Regions from separate parts of the Homo sapiens genome. Here regions 2 and 3 are each linked to region 1. Evidence: fine-mapped expression QTL. A gene starts in region 1. Each other region holds a variant in brackets. All regions are shown on one strand. Distances are between the middles of the regions. Region 1 holds the start of POFUT3 (protein O-fucosyltransferase 3). Region 2 holds the start of TTI2 (TELO2 interacting protein 2). Region 3 has its middle 22 kb from the start of SNORD13.

What was found. PIP is the estimated chance that this variant, and not a neighbour inherited with it, causes the effect.
Region 2: its variant is fine-mapped to the expression of POFUT3 in whole blood (INTERVAL, PIP 0.96).
Region 3: its variant is fine-mapped to the expression of POFUT3 in whole blood (TOPMed, PIP 0.99).

What each region holds. Positions count from the first base shown.
Region 1 is chr8:33,468,591-33,476,595 of GRCh38, reverse strand. It overlaps POFUT3 (protein O-fucosyltransferase 3), which reads left to right and starts at 3,450. Exons shown (of 5, transcript NM_032664.3): 1 at 3,450-3,532. RefSeq lists silencers at 3,341-3,420, 3,711-3,950, 5,181-5,230 and an enhancer at 4,271-4,480.
Region 2 is chr8:33,511,307-33,519,311 of GRCh38, reverse strand. It overlaps TTI2 (TELO2 interacting protein 2), which reads left to right and starts at 6,177. Exons shown (of 8, transcript NM_001102401.4): 1 at 6,177-6,230; 2 at 6,600-7,345. The coding sequence starts at 6,699. SNORD13 (small nucleolar RNA, C/D box 13) reads right to left here and starts at 5,837; the gene lies at 5,734-5,837. RefSeq lists enhancers at 4,196-4,485, 6,006-6,145 and a silencer at 5,526-5,575. The variant A/G (reference allele first, on the strand shown) is at 5,631.
Region 3 is chr8:33,531,052-33,539,056 of GRCh38, reverse strand. No RefSeq gene overlaps it. Among named protein-coding and RNA genes, the nearest start is that of SNORD13, 22 kb to the right of the region's middle. RefSeq lists a silencer at 1,209-1,409. The variant C/T (reference allele first, on the strand shown) is at 4,092.

The DNA.
Region 1 (8,005 bases):
CTCGTGATCCTCTCACCTCAGCCTCCCAAAGTGCTGGGATTACAGGCATGAGCCACCGCATCCGGCCATAGATGCCAATTTCTGTATCAGTTAGCTATTGCTGTATAACACACGCCTCTGAAACTCAGTGGCTTAAACAGTAAGCATTTATTCATGTTTGTGTTTCTATGAGTCGGTGGGTAGTCTGCTGACCTGGGGTTGCTCACATATCTGTGGTCATCTGGTGGACTGACTCGAGGCTAATTAGTCTAGGATGGCCTCACTCACATATCTTAGAGTTGGGTAGCAATTGACTGGGGCAACAGGGGTGACTGAGCCATTATCCCTCATAGCCCAGAAGGCTATTCTGCAGTTGGTTTCATGGCAGTTGCATAGAGTGGCAAGAAAATAAGTGGAAGTATGCTAGGCCACTTAAGGCCTGGACCCGGAAATGGCATCCTGTCACTTCTGCTACATTCTGTGGCCAACACAAGTTGCAGAGCCAACCTTGAATTTGAATTTTCTTTCTTTCTTTTTTTTTTGAGATGGAGTCTCACTCTGTCACCCAGACTGGAGTGCAGCGGCAGTGATCTCTGCTCACTGCAGCCTCCGCATCCCGGGATCAAGTGATTCTCTTGCCTCAGCCTCCTGAGTAGCTGGGATTGTGGGCGCCTGCCATCACACCTGGCTAATTTTTGTATTTTTAGTAGAGTCAGGGTTTCGCCATGTTGACCAGGCTGGTCTCAAACTCCTGACTTCAGGTGATCCACCCACATTGGCCTCTCAAAGTGCTGGAATTACAGGCGTGAGCCACCACACCCGCCCGAGTTTTCTTCTTTGATCTATGTGCTATATAGAAGTGTGTTGTTTTTATCTCCATGTATCTGGAGATTTTCTAATTATCATTCAGTTACTGGTTTCTGGTTTAATTCCTTTGTGGTCTGATAGCATGCTTTGTATGATGTCCATTCTTTGAAATTTGTTGAGGTGTGTGTGTTTTTTTAAATTTTTTTTATTTTTTATTTTTTATTTTAAATCGAGTTTCGCTCTTGTTGCCCAGGCTGGAGTGCAATGGCGCTATCTTGGCTCACTGCAACCTCCACCTCCCAGGTTCAAGCGATTCTCCTGCCTCAGCCTCCTGAGTAGCTGGGATTGTAGGCACCTGACAGCACGCCTGGCTAACTTTTTTGTATTTTTAGTAGAGACGGGGTTTCTCCATGTTGGTCAGGCTGGTCTCGCTCTCCCAACCTCAGGTGATCCGCCCTCCTTGGCCTCCCAAAGTGCTGAGATTATAGGCGTAAGCGACCGTGCCCTGCCGAGGTGTGTTTTATGGCCCAGTATACATGCCTTTTGATGTTTATATATAGGTATGTGTATTAGGCCTATACCTAGGAATTTCTGGGTCACAACGTGTATATTCAGCTCTAGTAAATATGAACAGATGATTTTCCAAAGTGGCTGTCACAACTGCACCCCCAACAATAGTGCATAACAGTTCTATGTGCTTCACGGCTTTGTCCTTGTGTTGTCTTGTCAGTTTTAAAATCTGTAGCCATTTTAGTGGATGTGTAGTATATATCATCATCGTGTTCATTTGCATTTCTTTAATGACTAAAAACATTAAGCATCTTTTTCACATACTGCCTGGCTATTTGGATTCGTCTTCGGTGAAGTGCTGTACTTATTGATTGCTTTTCTTTCTTATTGCTTTTAGGAGTTCTTGTTATATTCTAAATTCATTGTTAGATACAATATATCAAAAATACCTTCTCTCATTCCGTAGATCAGTTTTCATTCTTTTTCTTTCTTGAGACAGGATCTAATCCTGTTGCCCAGGCTGGAGTGCAGTGACACAATCCTGACTCACTGCAGCCTTGACCTCCCAGGGTCAAGCAATCCTCCCACCTCAGCCTCCTGAGTGGCGGAAACCATAGGCGTGCACCACCACACCTGGCTAATTTTTAAAAATTTTTCGTAGAGACGGGGTCTCCCTATGTTGTCCAGGCTGGTCTCCAACTCCTGGGCTCAAGTGATCCTCTCGTCTCAGCCTACCAAAGTGCTGAGATTACAGGTGTGAGCCACTGCACCCATTTCTTATTTTCTTAATGGTGTCTTTTGATGAATAGAGTTTCTTACTTTTAATCATATCTAATTTATCAATCTTTTCTGTGTGTTTGATGTTTTTTAGATGTGGACACCATTATTATCAACCTGTTTTCATAGAAAAGTTGAGTTTCTTGGCACCAGAGCTCCGCAGGGTCGGGACCAGAGGGAGGCAGGCCCGAAACAGCAAATCGCTCTCAGGCTTCTGCAGTGCACCCAGCACTGCAGGACACCCAGGGTCAGCACCTCCTCAGATTTTGAGCCCTAAGTACCTCATTTGCCTTGCCCTAGACCCACCCCTCCCAAAATGCTGAATTACCTCCTTAGGTTTATTACCTCCTAGACTAGGGCACAATAATTTTATTTGAGTTTTTGGATTTGGAACTCAGTAGCTTGAAGTCAATTAGCTTTCCTTTACCAGTGTCTAGTCCGTTTGGGCTACTATCACAACACACCTTAGTTTGGGTAATGCATGAACAACGGAACTCCACTGCTCCCAGTCTGGATGATGGGAAGTCCAAGATCAACAAACACGCTGGCAGATTCCTCATCTGTTAGCGTCTGTGCCTCATACAAGAGACCCTCTATGTGTCCTCACATGGCAGAAGCTTGCTCTGGTCTCTTTCATAAAGACACAGTACATTTGTAAATTTATATAGACTATAAAGGCACGAAATTCACATATGAATTTGGGGCAGGGTACAAACATTCACACCATAGCAACCAGTACAATCTTTTCTTGAATAAATGACTTTGACCTTTTTTTTTAAATTTATTTTATTTATTTTTGTAGACAGTCTTGCTCTGTTGCCCAGGCTGGAGTGCAGTGGCTTGATCTCGGTTAACTGCAGCCTTTACCTCCTGGACTCAAGAGATCCTCCCACCTCAGCCTCCCAGTAGGTGGGACTACAGGCATGGGCCACCACACTCTGCTAATTTTTGCATTTTTTGTAGAGACAGGGTCCCGCTATGTTGCTCAGGCTGGTATCGAACTCCTGGGCTCAAGCGATCTGCCCGCCTTGGCCTCCCAAAGTGCTGGGATTACAGGTGTGAGCCGCTGCCACGCCTGGCCTGAATAGGTGACTGCATGCGCTCCAGTCCTAGTCCAGTTGGAGAAGCGGAGAGTTTCCCCTGTCTTAAAGAAGAGGGCCCCCGCAGCCTTCCCGAGAACTTTCCATAGGGCCGTGGCCTCAGGCGGACTGCGAACCAAGATCATCAGCAGGGGGCGGCCCGGTGTTCTTAGAACCCGGGTCCCAAGAGCTTGTGAACAGGGCACGAGTGAAAACCCGGATCCAGGCTGGCTCCGCCGGAACGCGCCCCGAGCTCGCCCGCGCGGCCGCCTCTTCCGCTCCTGATCGGCTCTTCGGGTCTTCCCGGCGCCCAGGCTTGGGCTCATAGGGAGAAAGGAAGCTGCGCTGCATTCTGCGGGACGAACCCTGCTCCGCGCGAGGTGAGTGCGAGCGCCGCATCACATCTGGCCTCTGTGGTCTCTTGGTGGGGGTAGGGGCTTGATGCTGAGACACGGAAAGACGCTTTTCTGGTCCCACGGAAGCTGGGACACTACCTCCGGGAGTCACAGCCTAAGGAAACTCCCTCTCTGTACCGAGCAGGGGGTGCGTGTAAGAGACGGAATGGTGTGTGCAAAATAATCCAAGTCTGTTTTGGAGACTTAGTGGCGCAAAGGCAGAGCCACTGCCTGAGATTGAAGCCTGATCCACCAGGCGGGAGGCGGGTGCCGGGCCGGAGCCTCTGCTGGAGCCCGGAGAAGGAGCGCGGGGTCCCGGCGCCTCCCCGCCTGCCCCGATCGGCCTCCTCCCCAGGTCCGCGGCCGTCCATTCCAGAACCTAATCTGCCTTTGCGGGGCGCGAATTGCCTTGTTCTCCCCCAGGTCTTCCCAGAGAATCACTTGTTGCAGGAATGTTGTGTTGAAGTCGTAGCAACTGTGACTTTCTAGTTGCAGAGAATACGGCGTATTTAATGGAGAAAATGCCCCAGGAAAGCACCGGCAACCGCAGGCCTGGGTTATCCCATTTGCAAGCCATGTGTTAGGTATTTTGCACCCGATTAGTACCCTCAGAACAGAGCTCATTTTTTGTAAACTATAGAAGTAATTTTTCTGTGATTTTATGACATTTTCTGGGAATCTTTTAATGATTCTTTAAAATAAAGCAAATGTCACACAGAATGACTTTTTCTAACACCACGGCCCCAACAGCCTGCCCCCTGCTCCCTGCTGCAGCTCCCTGCAATAATAGTTGGTTAGAGTGTTTTGTGCATGAAATGACTTGGATTGTTAATTTAGTTTGTGGAATGCATCCAGCTCTGGCTGGCCACAGTTTTGAATAAGGCAAGTTGGCTTTCAGGACTTTATTCCCTTCGTACACCTTTCTTTCCAATGAGACACCCAGGAAACTCACGACCAATCTTGGGCTTGTTAGTAACGTCACACTACAACTAGGGCAGGGTTTCTCCCTGGTCTACCGTAGTCTCAAATGGAGGCCTTTCTCGCATTGAATAAGCAGCTCAGCTCTTTGAACGCTGAAGTTTCACTGCCTCCAATCTAGCAGCACCGTAGTCTCCGTTTTAAAACTTTCTTCTGAGTAAGGAGAAGCCAGAGGCGATTGGGTAGCCTCAGGTGATCATTCAGGTCTTCCAATTTCGAAATTGCTGTAATAACTCTTGCTCGCTTCCTGCTAGATGGCAGTGTGTAACAGTGAATTAAAAACACGATCTCAACTTTTACTGTGTTGTTATTGCTTGTCTTCTACAATAAGAAAAAAAAGTAAGTTTTCAAGTTTTATCTTACAAACAATATTTTTGAAAAATTTCAAACTATGGTTAAATTCAGGAAGTAAAAAGAATATAGTTTGGAAAAACAATGTTATTTATATATGTACAAATGTTGTTCAGTAGGCAGATATTTCCAACCCATATTTAAATGCTTTAAACTTTGGAATGTAGGCCGGCCGGGCGCGGTGGCTCATGCCTGTAATCCCAGAACTTTGAGAGACCGAGGCGGGCGGATCACGAGATCAGGAGTTCTAGACCAGCCTGGCCAATATGGTGAAACCCCGTCTCTACTAAAAATACAAAAATTAGCTGGGCTCATGTGGTGGCGTGTGCGTGTAGTTCCAGCTACTCGGGAGGCTGAGACAGAACAATCACTTGAACCTGGAAGGAGGAAGTTGCGGTGAGCCAAGACTGCGCCACTGCACTCCAGCCTGGGCAACAGAGCGAGACTGTCTCAAAACAAAACAACAACAACAACAACAACAAAAAACAAAAACAAAAAAACCAACCTCGGAATGTAAAGAGTTGATTTCGGGTAGATATTCAATATCTAATTCAATTACCAGCATTCTACAGTGAACATTTGTTACAATGTTTCTGAACATGGGTTTTTGAACATTTTTAGAAGTTAAGTTTATCTTAAAATGTCTTTCAGATTTTTTTCTTTGATAATGAAATTGGAGTTTTCAAAAGATTATACAGAATTACCAACAAGGAAAATGAAGATAAAGTAATCCTAAACCTGTTATATACAATTAAAAAAAAAATTTCCGGAAATCTTACTTTGTGATGACTCAAGTTGTCTGGATTACTGTCTCTTGATTAATCTTTTATGGAGAGTTTTTACTCCTGGATATAATTTATGGGATGAGAGAGCTTAGTTTTGGGATGGAACCTCAGAAGATCCTCAGGGATTTGTCTTTAGTCATGTGAAATATTAGCTACATTTTGTCAGTGTTACTGAACCAGCTCCTCATTCATGAATATATAAATGATAAAAGCAGATCAGGGATTTTATTTGTTTTTTCTAGTCTGCAGTTATTCAATATTTATTAATTTATATTTTTTCTAGAGATGAGGGATTTTAATTCGAGTATCTTGTAGGGTGGGAAATTGCCACAAAGTAACCTATAAGCCCTACTTGGAGGAAGAATAGTTACTAATACTTATTAGTATAAGACCTCATAGGAAAAACAAAGATGAAAAAGAATCCCTGCTCTTGAAGAATTGCCTTAGTTCTTACTGTGACACATAAACTTCATAGTCTTGTGCTGTCACCCCACTTTTAATTTTTATTTATTTTTGAGACAGGGTCTAGCTCTGCCACCCAGGCTGGAGTGCAGTGGCACGATCACAGCTCACTGCAGCCTTGACCTCCAGGGCTCAAGGGATCCTCCTGCTCAGCCTCCTGGTAGCTGGGACTATGACTACAGGTGCACACCAGCATGCCCAGCTAACTTTTTTTTTTTTTTTTTTTTTTTTTTTTTGTAGAGATGGGTTCTTGCTGTGTTGCCTAGGCTGGTCTTGAACTCCTGGGCTTAAGTGATCCACCCACCTCGGCGTCTCAAAGTGCTGAGATTGCAGGCATGAGCCACGACACCAAGCTTTCCATTTTAAAAATCTGTGCTTCTTGCCGGGCGCCATGGCTCACACCTGTAATCCTAGCACTTTGGGAGGCCGAGGCAGGTGGATCACGAGGTCAGGAGGTTAAGACCATTCTGACCAACATCGTGAAACCCTGTCTCTACTAAAAATACAAAATTAGCTGGGTGTGGTGGTGCACACCTGTAATCCCAGCTACTCGGGAGGCTGAGGCAGGAGAATCGCCTGAACTCGGGAGGCAGAGATTGTGGTGAGTGCCACTACACTCCAGCCTGGTGACAGAGTGAGACTCCATCTCAAAAAAAAAAAAAAAAAAAAGAAAAAGTAAAAAATCTGTGTTTCTAATTGAGGCATTGTATCAGTCTGTCTGTTTATCTGGCTCTCTGTCTTTTGGATTTGTTTTTAGTTTCTACATCAAGTAGATCCACTGAATACTCTTTCTTGTGAGGTTGTATTATTAACACTGCATAATTTAAGTACTTTAGTATGTGTCTGGAATTTAAGGATTGAGGAATGACATTGCCTTCATTTCTGCAATAGAAGTGCAGAGGTGTTCTGGCTACACCTCTTTCCCCATTAATCACCAGTCTTGATTCACATGACTGCCAGTGTGCCTTTCTCCCTTACTGTCCTCTACTGGTCTCTCCTGAAATTTGCACTAGTATGAAGAGGATGACTTTCCCACATAGAAATCTACAATCCAAAGCATGCTTTATATAAAAATAAATGCTCAGCAAAATATGAAGTTCACTGAAAATGAGCGAGGTACACATTAACACAGATTTTTGTTTTTGTTTTTGTTTTTGCTTTTTTTTCGAGACAGAGTCTTGCTCTGTAGCCCAGGCTGGAGTGCAGTGGCGCGATCTCGGCTCATTGCAAACTCCGCCTCCCGGGTTCATGCCATTCTCCTGCCTCAGCCTCCCCAGTAGCTGGGGCTATAGGCACGCACCACCACACCCAGCTAATTTTTGTATTTTTAGTAGAGACGGGGTTTTGTCATGTTGGCCAGGCTTGTCTCCAACTCCTGGCCTCAAGAAATCCACCCTCCTTGGCCTCCCAAAGTGCTGGCATTACAGGCATGCACCACTGCATCCGGCCTCACATTGATAAATGGCACTTTACTGTGAATACTTTAAATTTGATAATTAGATACATTTCTTCTAAAAACTTTCCGTGGTATTACCTCTAGCTTATTAACCCAGTTGACTCCCAATTACCAGAACAGAAATGGGCAAAGGAGTCTTCCCAGAGCTCCCTGTTTTCTAAGCTAACAGTTTTATTTTTATCTTGAGGTCTTTGGGCAGCCATTGAAGGATTTTAATCAGGAGAGATATCCAATCAACACTCTAGGGACATCTCTTTATGGCTGCATGAAGAATGCAAAAGGGTCACCACTGGGAAGAACACCAGTTGTTGGGCACTTTGGAGTAATCAGGCAGAAATGAATGAGGAGTATTGAGGTGTAGTTGAAAGGAGGTACTTAAAAGTGCCTGAAGAGTTGTCCAAAGGCCTTTAGGCATCTCCTCAGCCT
Region 2 (8,005 bases), 43 kb before region 1:
AAGAAAGAAAGAAAGAAAGAAAGAAAGAAAGAAAGAAAGAAAGAAAGAAAGAAAGAAAGGGAGAGGGAGAGGAAGAAAGAAAGAAAGAAGAAAGAAAGAAAAGGAGGGAAAGAAAATAAGATCTGGTGGGGCACAGTGGCTCACGCCTGTAATCTCAGCACTTTGGGAGGTTGACATGGCAAGAAAGCTAGACCTTGCCTGTAAAAAAGAAAGAAAGAGAGAGAGAGAGAGAAAGAAGAAAGAAAGAAAGAAAGAAAAAGGAAAGAAAGAAAGAATATGCAACATTGTTAGTTGAGAATATTTTAGAACTTTTAATCTATATCAGTTCTCATCCTTGGCTTGACTGATTATATCATCTTGGTGTCTTTAAAAAATTTATTTATTTATTTATTTATCTTTCCTTGAATATATCAGTGGAATTTGTTGGCGTCTTTTGTTTCTTTGCCCTTCATGTTTCTTGTCATTTGGTAGTAGACCTAAAAATTTGATTAGATTTAGGGTCCATTTTTGGGCAAAAATATTTCATAGGTGGTGTGTACTTCCTACCTTATTCCATTAAGAGGTGCCTGGCTGCCTTGCTTTTAGTGATGTTCGATAAATCAGTAGTTCAGTTATAAAGTTCCCCATCAACCTTCACCTCATAATTGTAATCACAATGGATGATAGTTGCCTTGTCTCAATGTTTCATTAGGAGGTGTGAATAGTGACTTTCTAATTCTACCATTTTGTTGCATTTATGACCCTTACGAATGATTTGGGTACCCTCGAATAGACAGAAGAATAAATGCTTGATTTTTTTCCTTTATATATCAATTCTCAAAATAAACATTTGTTTTCTTAAGTGATCCAAAGATGAATGATTAGTGATTTTTTTTAGTATCATTATGAACTCATGGATTTGTATATATTTGTTTTAATTCATTACAGTCATTACTCCTCTACAAGACCAGTGCTGTAATCCGTGAGCTATAGGGCCTTGGGTTGTTTTTGTTTTTGTTTTTGTTTTCACATCACCTCAGCAGTATTTAATAGCTACCTTGCTTTCAGGCATAACAAAATGCCACAGGCCCACCTTGTGTAATTCCTGCCCTAGTTCTGAAATCAATCATTTCCTAAAGCCTCACTGGTTCCTTTTAGTGGGAAATGGCATTTAAACTACAAATTTGGACATCCAGGTGCTCACAGCCATTAGACTGTCATTCTTCTTGGCCTTTCAGTGGACACAACTGGGATATATATATGTATATGTGTGTGTATATATATGTATGTATATGTGTATATATACATATATAAATTCATACCAACATTGCCAATTCTAATTTCAGATTACAGATTTGTTTACTCAAATATGTGACTCAATCAGATTACAGAATTTATAGCTAACTTAATTGATTTGATACTAGTATCTCTTTTATCTTTCATTGAAAATCTGGGTTTCTAATAATATTGTTACTTGTTATCTTATATACATATATAAGTTATACAAAATACATGTAATAACACCTAAACAGGCCAGGCGCGGTGGGTCGAGCACTTTGGGAGGCCGAGGCAGGTGGATCACCTGAGGTAAGGAGTTCGAGACCAGCCTGGCCAACGTGGTGAAACCCCGTCTCTACTAAAAATACAAAATTAGCTGGGCAAGGTGGCACATGCCTGTAATCCCAGCTACTTGGGAGGCTGAGGCAGGAGAATCACTTGAGCCCAGGAGGCAGAGGTCGCACTGAGCCGAGATCGCACCACTGCACTCCAGCTTGGGCGAAAGAGGGAGACTCTGTCTCAAAAAACAAATAAACAAACCCAAAAGAAACACACCTAAACAATATTAATATTACCAACAGTATACCATTATTAAATGCAGTTGATTTTTTTCTGATTTTAGGCTTTGTCACACTAAGGATATAGAGTCAAATTAATGAGTTTTACAGTTAATTTGTGTGGTTATGCCAGTGACTCAATGTACTCTTTATTTCTTTTCTTTTAGGAAATGCTTTGTTATTTTCTTTTAAAAAAATAGTTATGTAGGCTCTTGAGCTGCTTGCTTTGGCCCACTCTTGCCCTGAGGAGTATACTTTCATTTTCAATACGTCTCTGCTTTTGTTGCTTCAAAAAAAAATAAAAATTATGTGGCCGGGTGCGGTGGCTCATGCCTGTAATCCCAGCAATTTGGGAGGCCGAGGCAGGTGGATCACGTGAGGTCATGAGCTGCAGACCAGCCTGGCCAACATGGTAAAACCCCATCTCTACCAAAAATACAAAAATCAGGCGTGTGTGGTGGCAGGCGCCTGTAATCCCAGCTACTTGGGAGGCTAAGGCAGGAGAATCACTTGAACCCGGGGTGGCAGAGGCTGCAGTGAGCCGAGATCGCACAACTGCACTCCAGCCTGGACTGGAGTGAGGCTCTATCTCAACAACAACAAAAAAATTTACATGAATCCAAAGTTGAAGCTATTAAACACAGTGTATACAGAGAAATCTAGCTTCCATTCCTATTTCCTTCACCCCGTTCTTTTCTTACCTATAACCATTTTTCTTAGTTTATAATTTACACTCTATTGCATCTTTAACATGTAAGCAAATGCACACATCATTATTTCTATTTTCCCATCTTTCTTACAAGAAAGGCAGCATTTCAACACGTGTGAAAAGGGGGAAAAATAAAAATAAAGGCAACATACACATGGTCTCTGTCCTGCTTTTTTCACTTAACAATACATCCTAGATTTCCAAGGCAGTCCACAGAGATGGTTCTCTTTCCTCTGTGCAGCGGCATAAAACTGCATTGTGTGGATATACATAGTTTATTCAGCCAGTCCTCTGTGGATGGATGTGTGGGTTCAACAAACATTTATTGCATGACCAAATTGTGCCAGGCACTGGGAATAAAGACGTGGTCTCTGGCTTCAGGAAACTCAGAAGTGCAGATGGGGAGATCTCCACAATACAAGTGCTTTCCTTATAAGAAGTAATAGCTTGGGTCCACTTAGCACAAGGGGCACATGGAACAGGGAAGAGACGCTTGCACACAGGAGGGACACAATAACTGTCTATTTATTGGCATCTTGCTTCCACTTGGGCCTGCAAACAGGAGAGTCCCCTCGGGAGGAGATGGTTACCAGTGGTTGAAATTGCTTAAAAAATCATGAGTGCCACCAATTGGTCAGAGAAGGGAAAGCTGAATGAAAGAGGCCGAGAGGGAGGGTCCTAACCACAAAATTACCCTGGAAAGAGGAAATGTAACAACACAGGAGCTGTGGTTTAACATGAGCCAACACCTATGTAGAACTTTCTGCTGACCAGATATTGTTCTAAGCAGTTTACATATAATTCCTTTCTCACAACACTCCTAAGTGGTACGAATTATTACTACCTGCATTTTTCCGATAAAGAAATTAAGGTGGCTGGGCGAGGTGGCTCACGCCTGTAATCACAGCACTTTGGGAAGCCAAGGCAGGTGGATAACTTGAGGTCAAGATTTAGAGACCAGCCTGGCCAACATGGTGAAACTCCGTGTCTGGTAAAAATACAAAATTAGCTGGGCGTGGTGGGTGCCTGTAATCCCAGTTACTCGAGAGGCTGAGGCATGAGAATCGCTTGAACCTGGGAGGCAGAGGTTGCTATAAGCCAAGATCACACCACTGCACTCCAGCCTGGGCGACAGGGAGACAAGAAAGAAAAGAAAGAAGGAAGAAGGAAGAAGGAAGAAGGAAGGAAGGAAGGAAGGAAGGAAGGAAGGAAGGAAGGAAGGAAGGAAGGAAGGAAGGAAAAATAAAAGAAAAAGAAAAAAAAAATTAAGGCACCAGCGAGGTGGGTGGTTCACACCTGTAATCTAAGCGCTTTAGGAGGCCAAGGAGGGAGGATCGCGAGGCCAGGAGCTCGAGATTAGCCTGGGTAATACAGCGAGACCCCATTTCTACAAAAAAATTAGAAAATATTAGTAGGGTGTGGTAGGGCGCGCCTGTGGTCCCAGTTACTGGGAGACTGAGGCGGGAGGATCGCTTGAACCCAGGAGTTTGAAGCTGCAGTGAGATACGATGACGCCACTGCACTCCTGCCTGGGCCACGGAGCAAGACCCTGTCTCTAAAAAAATATTTTTTAATTAAATAAAAAATAAAAAGAAATGAAGGCACAGAGAGGCTACCGAACTTTTGCCCAAGGTCAGACAGCAAAATGGAAAGAAGGGCAGGCGAGTAGGCAGCAAGACACCGCAGATGGGACAGTTGCAAGTAGTGCACCAAGAAGCTGGTGCGCTCCCCAAGGTGGGACGAAAATACTGTATGTCCCTCTACCCCATAACCACCTCCTCGCGAGGACAAAGGACACCTGACACGTCACCCCTCCCTCGCCCCTGCGCGCACACACGCCCCTCACCCTACCCCAGGTCAGAAGACCCCGAAGGGCTTTCTCTGGACTCCTGGAACCCTGGAGGCGCAATTGACGCCTTAGAGGCTGAATAAGAGTCCCTCTCCGAGCAGCTGGCGACACGTCTCTCTCGCGCCACCCCTCCCAGGGTCCGAAGCTCCCGCCTGTGCAGTGGCACAAATGAAGTTTGCCTCCTCGGGCTCCTGCGAAACCGTGGAAGCTATGAGAGTCACAAGGTCCTAAATGGAAGCAGCTCCTCGGGAACTGAAGGCCAATCGGACGCAATTCTACCCTCCAGGAAAGCGCAGGAAGAGGGAACAAGCAATGCCGACGCGGCGTGGGGGACCCAACACAGGGCGGTCGCACAGGCGCGACCCTTCTCGCGCCTTCTCAAAACCCAAGCAAACACCACTGGTTCCTACACCCGCCGAGCCCGAGTCTGCAGCCTCCAGCTCCCCTGGCCCGTTCCGGGCGCCGCCTGCGACCCATGCCCAAGACAGCGCTCTGCTGTCCCTGCGCACCCGGCGCCGACACTGGCGGGGCGGGCCCAAGCCGGATCCGCCAACCCGACGACCCACCTCCCTCAGGGCTGCCCCAGACGCCAGCTGGGGGCTTCTACCTTGACGCTAGAATTTGAATTTTCAAACGCTTGTGGCTACAGGCTTTAAAACGCTAGCTCCAGAAACCAGCTAAAGTATTGCATTGAACAGAAAACCAAATACCGCATGCTCTCATTCATAAGTGGGAGCTAAACATTAGGAACACGTGGACATAAAAGTGGCAACAACAGACACTGTGGTCTACTAGAGGGGGCAATGAAAACGGGCTAAGCTGCACTCCAAATCCCAGCATCCCACAACATATCCAGGTAACAAACCTGCGCAGGTATCTCCCAAACCTAAAAAATTAAAGCCATTAAAAAGCTCTGCATTGGCCAGGCGCGGTGGCTCACGCCTGTAATCCCAGCCCTTTGGGAGGCCGAGGCGGGCGCATCACGAGGTCAAGAGATCGAGACCATCCTTGCCAATATTTATACAAAAATTAGCTGGGCGTGGTGGCGCGCGCCTATAGTCCCAGCTACTCGGGAGGCTGAGGTAGGACAATCTCTCGAAAACCGGAGGTGGGGGTTGCAGTGAGCCGAGATCGCAACACTGCAACTCCAGCCTGGCGACAACGCGAGACTCCGACTCACAAAAGAACAAACACAAAAACACATTACACAGTTGGACAACGGAAAAGCACCCGTGCGTGTAGCATACAGCCAGAAAAA[A/G]GGGCACCCGAAAACGGTAAACACAAAGCCATGAAACTAGGCCACCTGTTATCATAAGTAACAAGCCCACAAATACAAGTGTTAAATCGATCCTTGAAGTTCAGGTCAGACGGGTAATGTGCCCACGTCGTAACAAGGTTCAAGGGTGGCACATCTCACACAAGCGTATGAACACCCAATCATCACGCTCATGAACTACAAAAGGATCATCTTATAGTTGACATTAAGGAGTGCCAAGTATGTGCCACTAATTTACACATAGGGTGACTACCGTAATGCGATACATCCATTCTTCACGTATAAAATCCTGGATATTTTCAAAGTCCCACTGAGATTCTGTGATTATTCTTTTGTTTCTACCTTAGCAAAGGAAAACAGAAACACAATTAGCGAGCGGATTATTATATATGCAAATTTATTCTCTATAGTTCCACCTCTCCGTCATTTTCCCGAGCCTGGATCTTTATTGCTTTACGACCATACGTCGTGAAATAAGAAGGTGTTGCGGCAGTACTGGCGGAAGCTAGCCTTGCGTTTTGCGGCAGCAATATGAGCTAGGTCCGGATCCTGTTAGACACCGGCGGGCGCGAGCCGTTGCAGGTACCTGGGGGTGGTTAAGTTGGTGACATGGCTCAGAAGTTTATTTCTTTAAATTTTTAAGTTTTTTTTCTTTTTAGTCTTCAGAAAGGCAACAGTAGTCTTTTAACGTCACTGTTAAAAGTGTAAGACTCTTTTACTCCCTGAGAGTCCCCTTTCCCTTTCTTGCGTCCTTTCCTCTTTATTCTTTTTTTTTTTTTTTTTTTTACTGAGACGGAGTCTCACTCTGTCGCCCAGGCTGGAGTGCAGTGGCGCGATCTCGGCTCACTGCAAACTCCGCCTCCCGGGTTCACCCTTTCTCTTTATTCTTATCCCGGTCAGACTCGCCCCCTCCTCCAAGACATCTCTCTGTTTTATTTTATTTGATTTTAGTTCTCTTTGGGTGATCGCTCCTTCCCTCTTCAACGGATCCCTCCCCGCCTCCATCCTCGTTCTGTGGGAGAGACCAGCCTTCTGGTGCTGCAGTCAGGAATGGAGCTTGACAGCGCTCTGGAAGCCCCATCGCAGGAAGACTCTAATTTGTCCGAGGAGTTGTCTCACTCCGCCTTTGGACAGGCCTTCTCCAAGATTTTACACTGTCTTGCCCGCCCGGAGGCACGACGAGGCAATGTAAAAGATGCAGTTCTTAAAGACCTCGGTGATCTAATAGAAGCCACAGAATTTGATAGGTTATTTGAGGGGACTGGTGCACGGCTCCGCGGAATGCCGGAGACACTGGGGCAGGTAGCAAAAGCCCTGGAGAAGTATGCAGCCCCCTCCAAGGAGGAGGAAGGTGGAGGTGATGGGCACTCCGAAGCGGCCGAGAAAGCAGCCCAAGTTGGGTTACTGTTTCTTAAACTGTTAGGGAAAGTTGAGACTGCTAAGAATTCCCTGGTCGGCCCTGCATGGCAGACGGGCCTGCATCACTTGGCAGGACCCGTTTATATTTTTGCCATCACACACAGCTTGGAGCAACCATGGACCACTCCGAGATCTCGGGAAGTTGCTAGGGAGGTGCTCACCTCACTGCTTCAAGTTACTGAATGCGGTTCTGTGGCAGGATTCCTACATGGAGAAAATGAAGATGAGAAAGGGAGACTTTCGGTGATACTAGGGCTTCTCAAACCCGACTTGTATAAGTGAGTACTCCTGCCCTTTGCCACCGACTTGAGCCTCACAGTTTTTTATTTTTATTTTTTATTATTTATTTATTTTCGAGACAGAGTTTCACTCTTGTTGCCCAGGGTGGAGTGCAATGTTGCGATCTCAGCTCACTGCAACCTCCGCCTCCTGGGTTCAAGCGATTCTCCTGTGTCAGCCTTCGGAGTAGCTGGGATTACAGTTGCCCGTCACCACGCCTGGCTGATTTTTTGTATTTTTAGTAGAGACGGGGTTTCACCATGTTGGCCAGGCTGGTCTTGAACTCTTGACCTCAAGTGATCCACCCGCCTCGGGCTCCCAAAATGCTGGGATTACAGGCGTGAGCCACTGCGCCTGCCCTAGCTTAATTTTTTATAGCGTTATACCTCAAAGGAAGCTCAATTTCTTCAGCAGTAAAATAAGGGTGCTGTAACCACGGATCTCTTAAGGCCCAGAAACGTTGTGATTTGCTATAAATGACATAACTGGATAGTGGCAAATTGGAGGTCATAACTGAGATGTTCGGGCTCAGTTGTCCAATGCTCTTTCCAGCCCTTAGGACGACTGCCTAGGAAAATTGGAAATTCTGTCCCACTTACTTGGAGTTAATAATTACAAAATGTGGCCGGGCGAGGTGGCTCACTCCTGTAGTCCCAGCA
Region 3 (8,005 bases), 62 kb before region 1:
ACCTCAGAGTCACACAGATCAACACTACCCAGCCATCCTTCTGTACACACCATTTAACCACTAAGCTGCTGGTCTCCTGGGCACCTTTTCTGGCCCCGCCCCTATCTGTCACCCTTCGTGCCTAATGTCAAGTGCAGGAAGCTTACTGAAGTGTCAAAGGCACAGACACTGGGTGACAGTGTGAGACCCTGTCACAAAAAAAAAAAAAAATGCATTTCAAAGCAGATACCAGTAAGCTTCTTATATTAACTTGTGCTGCTAGCTTCTCTTTTTGTGAGTTAACTGAGGATGACTAGAAATCTGCCTTGAATATGAAGATGAGCAGAGAACTTGCTGACAGATTTTTGAAGAGTAGCTCTGACTTCAGGGTGGTTTCAGGAATAACTCAGCTATATGGGTGGGTGTGGTGGCTCCCGACTGTAATCCCAGCATTTTGGGAGGCCAAGGTGGGAGGATCACTTGAGCCCAGGAGTTTGAGACCAGCCTGAGCAACATAGTGAGACCCCCATGCCTGCAAAAAATTTAAACAAAGGTGAGCTGGGTGTGGTGGGCCCATGGACCCAGCTACACAGGAGGCTGAGATGGGAGAACTGATTGAGCTCAGGAGGTTGAGCCTACAAGTGAGCTATGATCACACCACTGCACTCCAGCCTGGGCAAAAGAGTGAGACCCTGTCCCAAAAAAAAAAAAAAAAGGAATAACTCAGATATGAAATCACTTCATATTTATGTATTTATTTATTTATTTGGTATGGCAGGGACAGAGTTTCACTCTTGTCACCCAGGCTGGAGTACAATGGCATGATCTCAGCTCACTGCAACCTCCGCTTCTTGGATTCAAGCAATTCTCCTACCACAGCCTCACGAGTAGCTGGCATTACAGGCGCCTGCCACCACACCCAGCTGATTTTTGTATTTTTAGTAGAGACAGGGTTTCATCATGTTGGCCAGGCTGGTCTCGAACTCCTGACTTCAGGTGATCCACCCATCTTGGCCTCCCAAAGTGCTGGGATTATAGCCATGAGCCACCGCACACAGCCTATTTCATATTTAAAATGTGGTGGCAGTGACAAAGAGTTGACTGCCTCACTTAGCTTTTCTTTCTTTCTTTTTTTTTTTTCGTTGAGACATGATCTGATATGGTTTGGCTGCTCCCCCACCTAAAATCTCATCTTAAATTGTAACCCCTATAATCCCCATAATCCCCGTGTGTCAAGGGCAGGACCAAGTGGAGGTAATTGGATCATGGGGGTGGTTCCCCCATGCTGTTCTCATGATAGTGAGTCTCACGAGATCTGATGGTTGTTTAAGCGTCTGGCATTTCCCGTGCTTGCACTCACTCTGTCCGTCCTGCTGTCCTGTGAAGAAGGTGCCTGCTTTTCCTTTGCCTCCTGCCATGATTGTAAGTTTCCTGAGGCCTCCCCAGCAATGCAGAACTGTGAGTCAATTAAACCTCTTTCCTTTATAAATAACCCAGTCTCGGGTTATTCTTCATAGCAGCATGAGAACAGAGTAACATAGGGTCTCACTCTGTCACCGAGGCTCTGGAGTGCAGTGGCACAGTCATGGCTCACTGCAGCCTCGACCTTCTGGGCTCAGGTGATCCTCGCACCTCAGCCTCCCAAGTAGCTGGGACTACAGGTTTGTACCACCACAGCCAGCTAATTTTTTTATATTTTTTATCGAGACAGGGTCTTGCCATGTTGCCCAGGCTGGGCTCAAGCAGTTCACCTGCCTCGGCCTCCCAAAGTGCTGGGATTACCAGGATGAGTCACCACGCCTGGCCCTCATTTAACTTTTAACCTTGATAAATTGTATGTTGTATGTCAAGGCAAAACGGAAGTGGGGGGGAGGGTGCAGAGGCAAGCATCAGGTGGGTAGAATACCCTCCCTTTATCACACATATTAACATTCCTTGCACAATTACCCAGTGAATATTCTCATTTTGGACTTTTTCCACACCCTAAATTTAGTAAGCTAGAATTATCTTTATTTATTTCTCTCTTTTTTTTTTTCCTAAGTCACTGTGTTTTAGGATAGAATTATCTTTTAAGCACCACTTTAAGCAACCTTTTTGGAAGGAAGAATGCTGACAAGGAGGAGATCTGTGTTTCCTTGTGGTTAGAATGCAATATCCTTAACTTAATCATTCTGCCAAGAAGCTGAGTCTCTTTATATGCTGACAATAGAGCAAAGACAGTAATCCAACACATTCATTACAGGTTTGTAAGATTAAAAATTTATACATTCAGATTGGAAAACATGAGAAACAGACTTGCTGCCAGACCATTAATTCTGGGCATCTCTGCATTCTGTGTTCTGGAAGCTGTGCACATTGAATTGAATAATTGCCTGAAACATGCCAGGGGTTTTCATTATCTAAAGAAGTCTATGTCGAGCCTTTTTACAACTAAAACCTCTCTAAAATGAGACTTAAGGAGTTTTTTACTTAATTTATAGACTTTAAAACACTAAGATCTGCATGTAAATAAGTTTAAGTGAGATGTGCCTATAGAATAAAACAATTAGAAGTAATTTCTTTGGTTTTCTTCTTATTATTATTTTTTAGTAGAGATGGGGGTCTCGATTTTTTGCCCAGGCTGGTGTCAAACTCCTGGCCTCAAGTGATGCTCCTGCCTTGGACTCCCAGATTGCTGGGATTACAGGCATAAGCCCTTGCTCCTGGCCTAGAAGTAATTTATTTAAAGTCTTGTTTACAAAGAGAAATGCACGAAGCACGTACAGAGGAAGAAAGAACAGTTCCAAATGAATGATTTTTGTTCCTAGTATTTGAGGAACAAAAGGTTCACTGACAAGAGTCAGTGATGAAATGTGGCTGTGTTTGGGAAAACATGGGATCTTTCCCTTCTACGCCTCATTATGAGATTAATTTGTAGTGTGGAATAAACAAAGCTAGCCCTGGAATTCAAAGAATGGGTTTTAAACCCAGCTCTGCCTCTAATTAGCCAGGAGACCTCAGCCTAGTTCCTTAATCTCTCTAAGCCTCCTTTTTCTCCTCTGTAAAATGGAGATATAGTAACTGCCTCAGAGTGTGATTAAGAAGAGTACATAAAAAAGTGTATATGAAAGACTTGAAGTCATGCTATTTTTGTTTCTAAAGTCACAGGGGGCAGGGCGCAGTTGTTCACACCTGTAATCTCAGCACCTTGGGAGGCTGAGGCGGGTGGATCACGAGGTCAGGAGATCGAGACCATCCTGGCCAACATGGTGAAACCCCGTCTCTACTGAAAATACAAAAACTAGCCGGGCATGGTGGCATGCGCCTGTAGTCCCAGCTACTCAGGAGGCTGAGGCAGGAGAATCACCTGAATTTGGGAGGCAGAGGTTGCAGTGAGCCGAGATTGCACCAGTGCACTCCAGCCTGGGTGACAAAGCGAGACTCTGTCTCAAAAAAAAATGAATCAATAAAATAAAATAAAAATAAATAAAATAAGGTCATAGGAAGCCATGCAACTAAACAAGGGGACTAAGTGAAAAGTCTGTAAGAAATAAGGAAGTTTGTGTATATCCCTCCCCTGCCATTATCCCAATTAATACAGCTGTCCCTTACTGAGCCTGTACTAAGTCACAAGCACTGCATTCCGGGTTTGCTTTCTTTCACTGGGCAGAGCTGATGCCCACTGAATATACAATTTGTAGAGAAGTCTGATGTGGATGATTGTACTTAGAATCAAACTTCTCAAACTTATTAAACAGCCAACACATATTGAGTGCCTACTACATGCCAGGCATTGTGCCAATGAGCAAGACCAAAATGGCTCCTACTCCCAAGATGTTTACAGTCTAATGGGGGAGATGAAGCCTAAACAAGCATACTCATATATTTAATACATGGACCAACCATCGTAAGGTATCCAGTGACTACCTTCGTAAAACCAGAGGAGAGGGATGGACAAGGAAGGTCTTTTCTGAGCAAGAGACATTTAAGCTCAGAGCACAAGAATGACAAGAGGTAGGGAAAGGCCAGACAGAAGAGTGTATGTAAGAAATTGAGGAAAAAAAAAAAAGAAAGAAATTGAGGGCCGGGGGTGGTGGCTCACGCCTGTAATCCCAGCACTTTGGGAGGCCAGG[C/T]GGGCGGATCACCTGAGGTCAGGCGTTCAAGACCAGCCTGGCCAACATGGCAAAACCCCATCTCTATTAAAAATACAAAAAAATTAGCCAGGCGTGGTGGCAGGCGCCTGTAGTCCCAGCTACTCGGGAGGCTGAGGCAGAAGAATCGCTTGAACCTGGGAGGCGGAGGTTGCAGTGAGCCGAGATCACACCATTGCACTCCATTCTGGGCAACAAGAGCAAAACTTCATCTCACAAAAAAGAAAAGAAAAGAAAAGAAAAGAAAAGAAATTGAGAGAGAATAGAGCTTGGGCTGTTGGTGAACACATCCCATGTAATTAAGCTTAGTGAGAGATGGGGAAGGGAGGTACAAATGAGGTCAAAGAGACACAGCAGCAGATCAGGGAGGGCCTAGTAGCCATGTTAGGGAATTCTAACTTTTGATAATAGGACTGTAGCAGAAAAGTGACATTATCTGGGTTAAGTTTTTATTGGAAATGGAATTGTGTACCAGAATGGAAAATAGGCCGGGCACAGTGGCTCATGGAAAATAGGCCGGGCACAGTGGCTCATGCCTGTGATCCCAGCACTTTGGAAGGCTGAGGCAGAAGGATCGCTTGAGGCCAGAAGTTCAAGACCAGCCTGGGCAACATGGTGAAACCCCCATCTCTACAAAATATACATATACATATATATATATATATATATATATATATGTGTGTATATATATATATATATATATATATATATATATATATATATATAAAATAATACAAAAAATTAGCCAGGCATTGGGCCATGTGCCTATAGTCCTAGCTGCCCAGGAGGCTAAGGTAGGAGGATCGCTCCCTTGAACCTGGGAGGTCAAGGCTGCAGTGAGCCATGGTTGCGCCACTGCACCCTAGTTTGGACAACAGAGTTGTTACTGGTGGAAGGTATCCGAGTCACATGGCACCAAAATATGTTAGACAAGGCCAATTTGTAGGGGTCTGCAGCAACCTCAAATCTTGCTTCCTCAGAAGAAAGAATTCAACCGAGGGACCTAAGGCAAAAGGAGAAACCAAGGCAAGTTTTAGAGCAGGAGTGAAAGTTTATTGAAAAGCTTTAGAGCAGGAATAAAAGGAGGGAAAGAACCTACACTTGGACGAGGACCAAGTGTGTGACTTGAAAGACAAGTGTGCGGTTTGACCTTTTGACTTGGGGTTTTATACGCTGGCATGCTTCTGCGGTCTTGTTACTTCTCCCCTGATTCATCCCTTGGGGTGGGCTGTCTGCAGGCACATTCCTGAGCCCACTTGCCCAACCCCTGAGGTCTTCTCAAGAAGCCACTGATCACATTTCATGTGTTTTCCATGTATTAGGACACTGCCTTTCCCTGGCACTGGCTGTGACCAATTACTATTTTAGAAAGACAGTTAACAACTGCCTGATCATCACCTGATGGTTGCCTGATATTCCTGATATTTGTGTGTGTTGGGCGGAGCCCTCTCCTGCCCTGCTCATGCCTGACCAGCTACCTACTGTAACAAAGTAAGACTTTGTTTCAAAAAAAAAAAAAAAAAAAAAAAAAAGAATGAGCCGGGCAGGGCGGGCGCATTATCTCATGCTTGTAATCCCAGCCCTTTGGAAGGCCCCGGTAGGCCAATCACCTCAGGTCAGGAGTTCAAAACCAGCCTGGCCAACACGGTGAAACCCCATGTCTACTAAAAATACAAAAATTAGCCAGGTGTGTGGTGCACACCTGTAATCCCAGCTACTTGGGAGGCTGAGGCACGAGAAGTGCTTGAACCCAGGAGGCGGAGGTTGCAGTGAGTCGAGGGCATACCACTTCACTCCATTGAATTTGGCAATGAGGAGGCTACTGGGGGCCTGAGCAAAAGCAGTTTTGCTGGATTCATGGGGTGAAGGAAAAATTGAGTGTGTTGAACAGTGAATGAGCAGGATACACTGGCTCATGCCTGTAATCCCAGCACTTTAGGAGGCTGAGGCAGGAGGATCACTTGAGACCAGGAATTCAAGATCAGCCTGGGCAACACAGCAAGACCCTATCTCTACAAAGAAAAATAATAATATATGAGAAGAGACAAGCCATTCCTAGAAAATTGAAAAGAAACAAAAATGCATATAAACGTATATCAAGGTCCTCACATAGCCATTGTATAAGTCAGAATTTTCCAGATAGGTAGATAAGAGGGGATGTATTAGGGGAACTGGTTCACATGACTATGGAGGCTGAGAAGCCCCATGATATACCATCTGCAAGCTGGAGAACCAGGGAAGCCAGTGGCATAATTCAGTCTGAGTCCGAAGGCCTGAGAACCTGTGGGCTCCTGGTGTAAGTCCCAGAGTCTGAAGGCCTGAGAAGCTAGAGTTCATATGTCCAAAGGCAGGAGAAAATGGGTGTCCCAGCTCCAGAAGACAGAGTGAATTAGACTTTCCTCTGACTTGTTATTCTATCCAGGCCCTCAACAAATTAGATGATGCCTGCCCACATCAGGTAGCTCTTCCTTACTCAATCACTGATTCAAATGCCAATCTCTTCCGGAAACACCCTCACAGACATAACCAGAAATAATGCTTTCTGGGTATTCCTTGACCAGCTATCTGGGTATTCCTTGACCCAGTTGAGTCGACATCTAAAATGAATATCACAGCTATATAGAAAAGAAGCCTATTTCAAGTAACTTGAAACATAACATTTGATTGAAATTATTATTATTTGAGACAGGGCCTCGCTCTGTCACTCAGGCTGGAATGCAGTGGCCCAATCATGGCTCAAGCAGCCTCAACCTCCTGGGCTCAAGTGATCCTCCTGCCTCAACCTCCCAGGTAGCTGGGACTATAGACATGTGCCATCTCACCTGGCTAATTTTACTTTTTGTAGAGATGGTGGGGGTGGTCTAGCTATGTTGCTCAGGCCGGTCTCAAACACCTGGCCTCAAGCAATCTTCCTGCCTTGACCTTCCAAAGTGCTGGGATTACAGGAGCGAGCCACCATGCCCAGCTGATTGCAATTATTTACTCAGTGTACCCTAAAGACAAAAACAAATAGCAAAGAAGTCTTAAATTATATTCAATAATCTCATGTTTTTTTCTTTCTTTCTTTTTCTTTGAGTCGGAGTCTCTTTCTGTCACCCAGGCTGGAGTGCAGTGGTGCGATCTTGGCTCACTGCAACCTCTGCCTCCTGGGTTCAACTGATTCTCCTGCCTCAGCCTACAAAGTAGCTGGGACTACAGGCACATGCCATCACACCTGGCTAATTTTTGTATTTTTAGTACAGGTGGGGTTCCACCAGTGTTTGCCAGACTGGTCTCTAACTCCTGACCTCAGGTAATCTGCCCACCTCAGCCTCCCAAAATACTGGGATCACAGACATGAGCCACCACGCCCAGGTAATCTTATGTTTAGTAATAACAATATTGCTATTTTAATACCTTTATGTGTATATTTTAGAATAAAGCAAATAAGTAATTACATTAATGTTATTATGAATCAAGATTTTTGGCCGGGCGCGGTGGCTCACATCTGTAATCCCAGCACTTTGGGAGGCCAAGATGGGCGGATCACAAGGTCAAGAGATGGAGACCATCCTGGCCAACATAGTGAAACCCCGTCTCTACTAAAAATACAGAAAAAAATTAGCTGGGCGTGGTGGCACGCTCCTGTAATCCCAGCTACTTGGGAGGCTGAGGCAAGAGAATAGCTTGAACCTGGGAGGCAGAGGTTTCAGTGAGCCGAGATTGTGCCATTGCCCTCCAACCTGGGCAGTAAAAGAGAGGAGAGATACAAGTCTCATTTTAAAGAAGTATAAGCCTGAAATCTTAAATCTGAATTGGAAATATTAATACAAATTTATGATTTTTTTCTGCTTTTAAAGAGCATATATTTCCTAGATGTGTCATCCACCGAGACCTAGAAAACTAAAATCAATACG